Regions from separate parts of the Homo sapiens genome. Here region 2 is linked to region 1. A link means that fine-mapping ties the variant in region 1 to the expression of a gene that starts in the linked region. Tissue or cell type: whole blood. Region 1 holds a variant in brackets; the other region holds the start of a gene. Each region is shown on its reference strand, or each on the opposite one. Region 1 overlaps BCL11A (BCL11 transcription factor A). Region 2 holds the start of LMOD1 (leiomodin 1).

Evidence for each region. PIP is the estimated chance that this variant, and not a neighbour inherited with it, causes the effect.
Region 2: it holds the start of LMOD1, and the variant in region 1 is the best candidate, but not a certain one, in a credible set for the expression of LMOD1 in whole blood (TOPMed, PIP 0.89).

What each region holds. Positions count from the first base shown.
Region 1 is chr2:60,495,841-60,500,228 of GRCh38, reverse strand. All of the region lies in intron 2 of BCL11A (BCL11 transcription factor A), which reads left to right. Among named protein-coding and RNA genes, the nearest start is that of BCL11A, 56 kb to the left of the region's middle. RefSeq lists enhancers at 26-235, 2,659-3,268 and a silencer at 876-945. The variant C/G (reference allele first, on the strand shown) is at 1,913.
Region 2 is chr1:201,944,040-201,948,427 of GRCh38, reverse strand. LMOD1 (leiomodin 1) reads left to right here and starts at 1,880. Exons shown (of 3, transcript NM_012134.3): 1 at 1,880-2,348. The coding sequence starts at 2,088.

The sequences.
Region 1 (4,388 bases):
AGGTCCTGTGCTGCCCCCACAGCTTTGCAGGCTGCTGGTTTTCCATCCAGGGCACAGCCGCAGGCCTCTGGGCACCCTAGCCCTCAGTGCCCAGGGCAAAGCCCTGACATGCAATCTCACTGGCAGGCAGCCTCAGGCAGGCCTGGGCAGAGGACCGAAAGGAGGAGAGGAGGGAGGGAGCTACAGTAGAGCAGACAGGAGACAAACACCAGCTAAGAGTAAACAGCCTGGCAGTGGGGTGAGTGCCTGGCTGGAGGGGCTCACCTGGGCTGGCCTGCCTGGGAGGAGCCAGGTCGGTGGCTGCTCTCTCCGAATCTTAGTCCTGCTTGAGGTCTAGCAGCTTCCGGAGCTGCACATGGGGCTTGAGGTCTGGTGCTTATGGATTAGGAGGAAGAGAAGACAGATGGCAGAGTACCAGGCAGCTTAGGAACATGTCTCCTTCCACATGCTGTGGCCCAGGTGCTGCCCAGAGCTGTTTCACAGCAGCCTCTCCACTCAAGGTTGAGCGGTTTCCTTCAGTGCTGTCCACCCCTTTGGTCCGGGGAGCTTCATGTTCCTGGGCCTCACTGACACCTGCATGGGGTTGGTGGGGAGGTATGAGGGGTTGGAGGGGTCTTTTTGCTAGCCCTGGCCCGTGGCAAACACTGTCTTGAGAAAGTGGGACGTTGAAGGAGCTTGGACTCTAAAGTCAGCTACACATGAGTCTTTTCACCTGCTGGCTAGGTGGCCCCGGACAAGTCAATCAGCCTATTGGGCCTCAGGCTCTTTATCTATAAAATGGGGCTAATTTCCTTTTTTGCCCCTGGGAAGAAATATCACTTAGAGGAGTTACAGAATGTGCAACCTTTCCCAGGAGTATTGCTCCTGAAGGAATAAGGCACGATGGGCTTTGACTTCAGCCTCCAGCACTGTGGCCCAGAAGGGTATGGCTGGGCAGGGGCGTCACACCCCTGCAGCTCTGTGGGAGTGACGGAAGGGCGCTATCCACTCGCCTTGCACATGGCTGTCTTGCTCTACCAGGCCTTAGGTTCTGTGGCCAGATACTGTTCTCCAGCTCTTTGGCTTGGGCCCCGAGACCAGAGAAGATAATGGCAGCCCAGAAACCTGAATACTGGGGAACACATTGTAGGGTGATCTCCCAGAAAAGCCAGCGAGAAATGGACTGTAGCTGTAGCATTCTTCCCTTTGGATGCCTGTGTGGGGACAGAATCAGTGGAATGGAAAATGAAGAAGAAACACTGGCCCTGCCTCTCATCAATGCCCCCCCACCACCCACCACCACCACCTGCTTCCTGTTCTATTAGACAAACGTAGTTTCTGGATGAGTTGGACAGTCATCTGAGTTTGATCAAGATTTACAGGTAATTCAAATGTATGTATAAGGTACATACATATTAGTACATCCATCAGAGAGGCTTCCTTAAGCCACAAGTCTCTAGCTCCTCAGAGAACTGGCAGTCTGGCTGGGTCTGTACGAACTTGGACCTATAGATGACCTCACTGGTTTCTCCCCTTGTCACCTCATCTGCCTGCTTCCTTCTCTTTACTGATCTTATGTGAGTAGGTAGAGGGGTCAGATCACCTCTGCTCAGCTCTGCCCAGCACACTAAGCCTATTTGCTATTAAAATTTGAAAAACAAATGCAGGTGCCAGAGGTGGCTAAATAATGAATGTCCCAGGCCAATTCTAGGAAGGGAAGTGGGTATGGGGCAGCCCATTGCCTTCCTGGTACCAGGATGATGCAATGCTTGGAGGCTGTGAGCTCCCCACCTTCTCAGGGCACACCCTGTGATCTTGTGGGACCCCTCTGTCCAGCCCAGCCTGGGTGTGCATCTTGTGTGCTTGGTCGGCACTGATAGGGGTCGCGGTAGGGAGTTGTCGGCACACACTGCTGCATGTCCTGTGAGCGGTC[C/G]CCAAGGCTGTGCCCAGCCTTCAGTGTCCAGGGCCTCTTCTGACAGGCCCTGCTGGTTATCACTGTTGGCATTATCTCCACGCACCACTTCTGTGCCCAGGGCTGCTGGGTCACCTTAAGGAGCCACACACCCGTCTACATAGAGGCCCTTCCTGCTTGGGGTCTGACCCAGTTATCCCCTCCACACCTCCATTCTCCCAGACTTTTGACTCACCCCAGCCCTGCTAAGAGTGATGTCCTCCCCCAAAGAGAAGACCCCTGCTCTTGAGGGTCTGCCAGGTGGGTCCCTCATCTCCCCACCTCCATGGGCCTCTTGGATTTTGTGCATAGCAATCTCTGCAACACCCTGACCTTTATGGGGTCATCCTCGGCCAATGAAGCGGTGGGTCCAGGCTCCCCCTTCTATCACCTGGCTCACTTCCATCCTGCAGAGGAAGCTTGGTTTCATTTAGGACAATGTGCAGGATCCTTTTGATCATTTCTCTACTGGATCATCAGCAAAGGGAGAAATGAGACAAAAGAGGCCACTGAGTCCTTTGGGGGAAATATGTGCCTATAGTAAGGTGATAGTTCAGAGAAAGAGAAGAGTAGGAGGCTGGACCTGAAGGCCTTCCAAAAAAAGTAAAGGATGTTAAATTGCTCTGGAAGGTGCAAAGTGCCATCCAGTGGAAGCTATTATTATTATTATCATCATCATAATGGTCATTATCATCACCATTATAGGATATGGCACTGACGTAGGTAGTGACTGGTAAGAGCCGATTGAGTTTCTAGCTGATTCCTGATGTTAGGGGCCATGAATCTGTCTACCTGGAATGTTCTAATTCAATTCAGGAGCGGCAGTTTAAGTCTAGACTTCAAAGCACTCTCATATATCCTTGGCCTGCTAACCTGAGGGCTAGTTTCTAGGGATTGATTAACTTAAAGACAGTTCATATATGCTTGAATACTAGCTATTCATATTCTGAAAAATCTGACTTGATCAAACAGAGCAGTTAAAGGCGATGCTTCGTTTTACAAAAGATTTTCCCCCCTCTTTACAAAAGGATGCACAGTGGTATTCCTTTCAATGGAATGTTTCTCTAGCTCATTAAGTGTTTACAGGTCATTAGCTACTGCATGGAAGGACTTTGCTAGAGAAAAGGAAGGCTGCAAGGAAATAGCTCTAGCTCTAGCTCTAGCTTAGGGGATGCTAGCTAAAGGGAATTAGAATTGGTTGGCCAACAGGTGTCTGCGGTGTACTCCCTGTCCACTCAACACTGGGGGAGGAGTAGAGATCTTGCTTCCTTCCATGTGAGAGCTTATAGTCCCTTTGGAATCCAGATTTATCGTGAAGTAATCGTGAAGACAGAAATTAAGTGCTACATTGTGTTCACTCATCTCTTATGACTGTCCATGGGGAAATGGGTCCTGCTTTACAAAAATTCAGTTTGCATGCTGCTTTTCAGGCCTATGACTGTGACATCCAGTGAGGGAGATTTGAGGAAGGGGTTGATGTAAGACTCCTCTTGGGAGCATAGTGAGAGAGAGAGAGAGAGAGAGCACTCACAGTGGAACCTAGAGTGGGAAAGGCTACCTGGTGGCTGTCCTGGCATGTAAGTAAGTCTGTGTGGTCAGGGCTTGCATTCCATAAATGGCCCAGGCCCCTGCTGGCTGCTGGGAGAGAAAGTCGGTGAGGAGAGAGGGTTGTACAAGGCAGGAGAGATGTACTCACCAGGCTCTTCCAGAAGGGGTAACTGTCTCAAATCCTTGCCTTGAACCTGCAGCAAAGTGGAAGATAGGTGTTATCCTCCTCTCTTCCCTCTTTCCTGCTTCAGGCTACTCTGAACTCACTTTTGCTGTGTGTCCAGAGCTGACCAGAGGACAATGGCAGACTTATTGTCAGACTGGCAGCACCAGCCTAGTGCTCTGTCTCTGCCTGGGAAATGGTTTCACAAAGCTCCAGTTCTGCCCTGGACACTTGCCTCATAGGGCTATCCCTTTGCCCCTCAGTAACACCACTGGGATGGTCCACTCCCACCCTGTCCCCCATCTGTGGTAGCCTGTGTTGCCTCGTGGGACAAGGCATTCTGTAAACGTGTATTGGACTTCCATTGCTTAAGTCATGATTTGTTTTTCCGACTTCCAGAACTTTCCCGGTTCTGGTTTTCTGGGATTTCATGAACAATTCCCTGTTTCCGTAATCCATTTCCTGCACAGGTGCATTGCTTTCAATCATCTCCCCTCCGGTTATCCTAAAGCCTTCATTATCAATTGACTTTTCACATATGAGGGTGACCTCTGGATCCCTTCTCTTTGGTTTGTTTGTTCTCTTTTCCAGAGCTGCAGTATGTTTCTTAGGTGTTTTAAAAAATAGCTAAGAATAGTGAAAACACCCTTGTAATTTAGAGACTCTCAGAAAAATGACAGCACCATTTAGAGCCTGGAATTACAGTTTGACTTCACTGTGCCTTCTCTGCCCCAGGCTCCCATGGTG
Region 2 (4,388 bases), not on the chromosome of region 1:
TTCAGCCTCCTCTTGTTGTGTTTTCCCATAGCCCCTGTGCTTGCTCGCTCTTTCTTTCTTTCTTTCTTTCTTTCTTTCTTTCTTTTTTGAGATGGGGTCTTACTCTGTTGCCCAGGCTGGAGTACAGTAGCGTGATCACAGCTCACTGCAGCCTCAACCTTCTGGTCTCAAGCAATCCTCCCACCTCAACCCCCTGAGTAGCTGGGACAACAGATGCTCACCACCACATCAGGCTAATTTTGTTTTTTTTTTTTTTTTGGAGAGATGGGGGTCTCATTATGTTGCCCAGCCTGTTCTTGAACTCCTGGACTCAAGCAATCCTCTTGCCTTGGCCTCCCAAAGTGCTGGGATTACAGACATGAGCCACTGCACCTGGCCTGATTTTGTATCTTTAGTGATATCTCTTGCTCTTAGAACAATGCCTGATATATAATAGGCACTTGATAAATCACTCAATAAATATATACCTACGGTTTGACCAATAAGTTGGCTACTGACTCTTAAAATGACAACCCCCAGGTTTCCCTAAAGTCTTCTTCCACTCTTCCTATCAAGTCTGCCTGCCTTCCTTCTGCCCTTCAGTCCCCCCAGTGGACACCATTCCCCTCTTCAGCCTTAACCTAAAGTTGGACTAGTGGACATTAAATGGCACGGCCAAGTTTTAGTCCCAGACGATCCCTGGACTCAGCAAATGCTGATCAAGTGACTGTCTCTCTCTGGCTTAGGATGGAAAGATGCCAGGAAAGATCGAAGCATCTACCCTGATGGGTTACACCAGGGCTTCTAGAAGGGATTTTGTGGCAGGAGGAAGGGGGGCAGGGGATTGAATGTCTCTGTGACTTGTGCAGGGCAGCATGATGGATGAGCAGTGGAAAGCCCTTCTATGAAACATGCCAGACCTGTTGCAATCGTATCTCTCCCGACGGCCCAGAATTCTGTTTCCCTGAAGACATACTAAATCGTGCTCTGGATTTATATGTGGGTGGTGACCTGCCTCTGTGCTCCCAAAGGAGGTCTGTCTACAGATGCCCGGCAGAGGAAGAAACAGATGACAACAGGGGGAGGTTTGAACCCTCTTCCCAAGAGCCTTGGAACTTCATGGAAAGTGACAGCCCTTTAAGAGTTTCCCGACTTCTGCAGATCCTTCTCTCTTTCCCAAACAGCCTGCCAGTTTTCAGTTTTGGTACACAGTAAGGATTTATTCTCTCTCTCTCTCTCTCTCTCTCTCTCTCTCTCTCTCTCTCTCCCTCTCCTGCCTAGCTATCTCTATCTCTAAGTTTGTCTTTCTGTCTCCTGTCTCTCTCTTAAGAAGTGGCCAAAGGATCCTGGAGCCTCTGATGCTCAGCCTTCAGGTCCTCCTTGGCAGAACCTGGGTAGAAAGAAAATGGGTAGGCAGGGGGTTAGGAGTAACAGCTCCTCATCTTGAATCTAGACTTTCCTGGAGCTGTATACACCTGGGAGCCCCCCAGCACATTACCAAATACTGTAGAAGGAAGTCCATGAACCACACATTGACCACAGTGATACGTCCACCCGGTGATGGAGTAGTAAAATACGCTCTTGAACGTGCCCCGGGCTGGCGAGTTCACCGGCCCTCATGGCCTCGTCCCTGCTTGTCTGGCTCTCCGTGGCTGTGATCTGCTTCTGCCAGCCTACGCATTTTTGTATCTTTTTCTCATTGCGTGGCCCCTTGTCTTTAAAAGGCTAAACTGCTCTGTACTAAATTTGGTCACGCAGCGCTCCAAGATTCCCTGGAATGTCCTCAAGTTTCAAACAGCTCTGACAGCGAGGTAGGCCCGCCCCCAGCTTGGGGATTGGCTTCTCCTCTCCGGGCCTGGCAGTTGTCGGGTCTTATTGGCCGCTGATTAGACCAGCCGGGGTCCACTAGCCCTGGGCTTCAGGGAGGCTGCTGCGTCCAGTGAACACTTCAGCACCTGTAGCACAGAAGGGCCAAGGAGCTGCAGTCCTCGACCAGCAGGAGGTTTGCTCCTCAGCCCACTCGCTGCATCCAGATCAGCTCACCCCTCTCCCTTCCCTGCCCACCAGGACTCTGATAGCCCCTGGCAGCCACAGCCCATTTTGCCAAGATGTCTAGAGTAGCCAAATATCGCCGGCAGGTGAGTGAAGACCCCGACATCGACAGCCTGCTGGAGACCCTGTCTCCCGAGGAGATGGAGGAGCTGGAGAAGGAGCTGGACGTGGTGGACCCAGACGGGAGTGTTCCCGTGGGGCTGCGGCAGAGAAACCAGACGGAGAAACAGTCCACGGGTGTGTACAACCGGGAGGCCATGCTCAACTTCTGTGAAAAGGAGACCAAGAAACTTATGCAGAGGGAGATGTCCATGGATGTGAGTGAGCACAGCCCTGGAGGGGAGGAGGGAGACAGGGGAGGGCTGGAGACCCTGGCTTCATGATTAGGATGCTTCCTTCCTTAGAAGAAACGTTCTTGTTGGCAAAGGATTTTAATGCTTCAGAACTGATGATTATCCACTGAACTAGCGGTGCGAATCTCTTACTCCTAATTTCTGTTTTATAAGCAGAAGTCGGATATGTTGGAGGAACACAACATCCCACAAAATCAAATAGAGCTACTAGTAGAATGGGAGCTGGAAGGTGTCCTTGAAGAGTCCATTGTCAAGTTGACTCCATCCTGGTCCCACAATACCTTTGTTTTTCTCCACACTCATTCCATCCTATTGTGAGGAGGGGTAAAAAGAGAGAGTGATACTTTATGTCTCCTGTCAGCCACCCAAAAAGACAAAGCTAAGCCATTTTTTGTGGGAGAATAACTCATTTTCAAGTCCCCAACCCTATGGGCATCTCACGGCACATGGATCATTTCAGGAGGCTTGGGGGTAAATGAGTTTCCCAAAGCAAAGGGAGACAGGGACCAGGAGTCTATGGGCTGGGAAATGTGGCTTAAAGACCTGATAAGCTTCAAATTTATTCCCAGGGAAGATGTTTTTTGTTGTGGTTAGTTGGTTTTTGGTTTTGTTTTGTTTTTGCACTCTCCAGAGGAGCCTCTGGAGGGAGCATGCCCTCTTTTTGGTAATTAACCCTTTAGCAGCTGGCGAGGCCGCTTTGCTGGGGGTTGAAGATAGTCATAGAGGAGGGAAAAGGGGTGACGGTTTTGGAAGCATCTGCCCACACCTACAATGGGCTTAAGCACAACTTGCTTTCTGTTTTCCTGAGTTGGCATGGAGGAATTTTTTTTTTGTCACTATTGCATTGGTATGTGAGTTTTCTTTGGACAAACTAGCCTCCGATGAAGTATGACTTTGTGGGATACCTTTGTCCATGGGAAAGAGTGTTGCATAGGAAAATTGTTCAAGTCTTTGTTCTAGTTCTCTTATTCAGCCACATCTCTTGTACATTATCCATTACTTGTGAATTCTTGCAAGAAAAAGATCAGTCTCAATTCTTGCTTTTTGTTTTACTTCTATGGAAACTGAGGCACAGAGCTTCAAATGACATGCACATTCTCACAGAGGAACTGAGAATGGGAACATTATCATCCAAAATGCCTGCGGAATGACTGGCTGGGTATGAAATTGTGTTGACTGCTAGTCACAGAGCATATTGGTGGACACAGCCCTGACTCCTTTAGTGTAGCAATGGGAAAGAAGGGAGGAGGAGGGAAGGGGGTGAAGCAAAGAGGAGCTGGAACTCTGTCTCTGTCCCTACCGCCCCCCCCCGCCCCACCACCTATGTTTAAGCCTTTGCCAAGAAGAGGGAGAAGGAGGGAGGAAGGAGGGAAGCCAGGAGGCTCAGGAATTTATTGTCCTGTATGCACAAGGTGGTTGCCCCAGATGCAGCTATGATAATGATAAATAAAACCAAAACATTTACAGAAAAAGTGGTAGCACTTACTGTGAGGGCCCGGTACCCCAACACAGCTATCAGGAATCATACAGAAAGAAATGAAATGCAGCCAAAGGCTTTGGCACCCTTGGAAATCGTTGACTCTGCTCTTCCCCACTCCCAGTCGCAGGCTCTGGGCCCATGACTGCCTTGTGTCCGGTAGCTTCCAGTGCTCAGAAAGGTACTCCTGAGGCTGAAGTCAAACAAAGCAGTCTAATCACAAGCAAGAGTGTGAAGGATTCTCCTGTTCCTGGAAATTTCACTATCATAGACTTTTTATTCAGCCAGTTAATACCGTGACAAGTGTCTCCTCCCCTGCCTCACCTCTCTCACCCCTGCCAGGTCCACACTTGGTTCTGCGGACAGAGCCCGAGTCAAGAAATAGAAGTGGTGTGTGTGTTTGTGTGTACATCCTTGATGTAAGGAGATGCCTTTAGGTCCGGTTTTCCCTTGTGGATGTAGGCTGTTCTGATCCCCTCACTCTTCCTCACCCTGTCCAGGGACGTACATTGGCATAATGGCTGGCT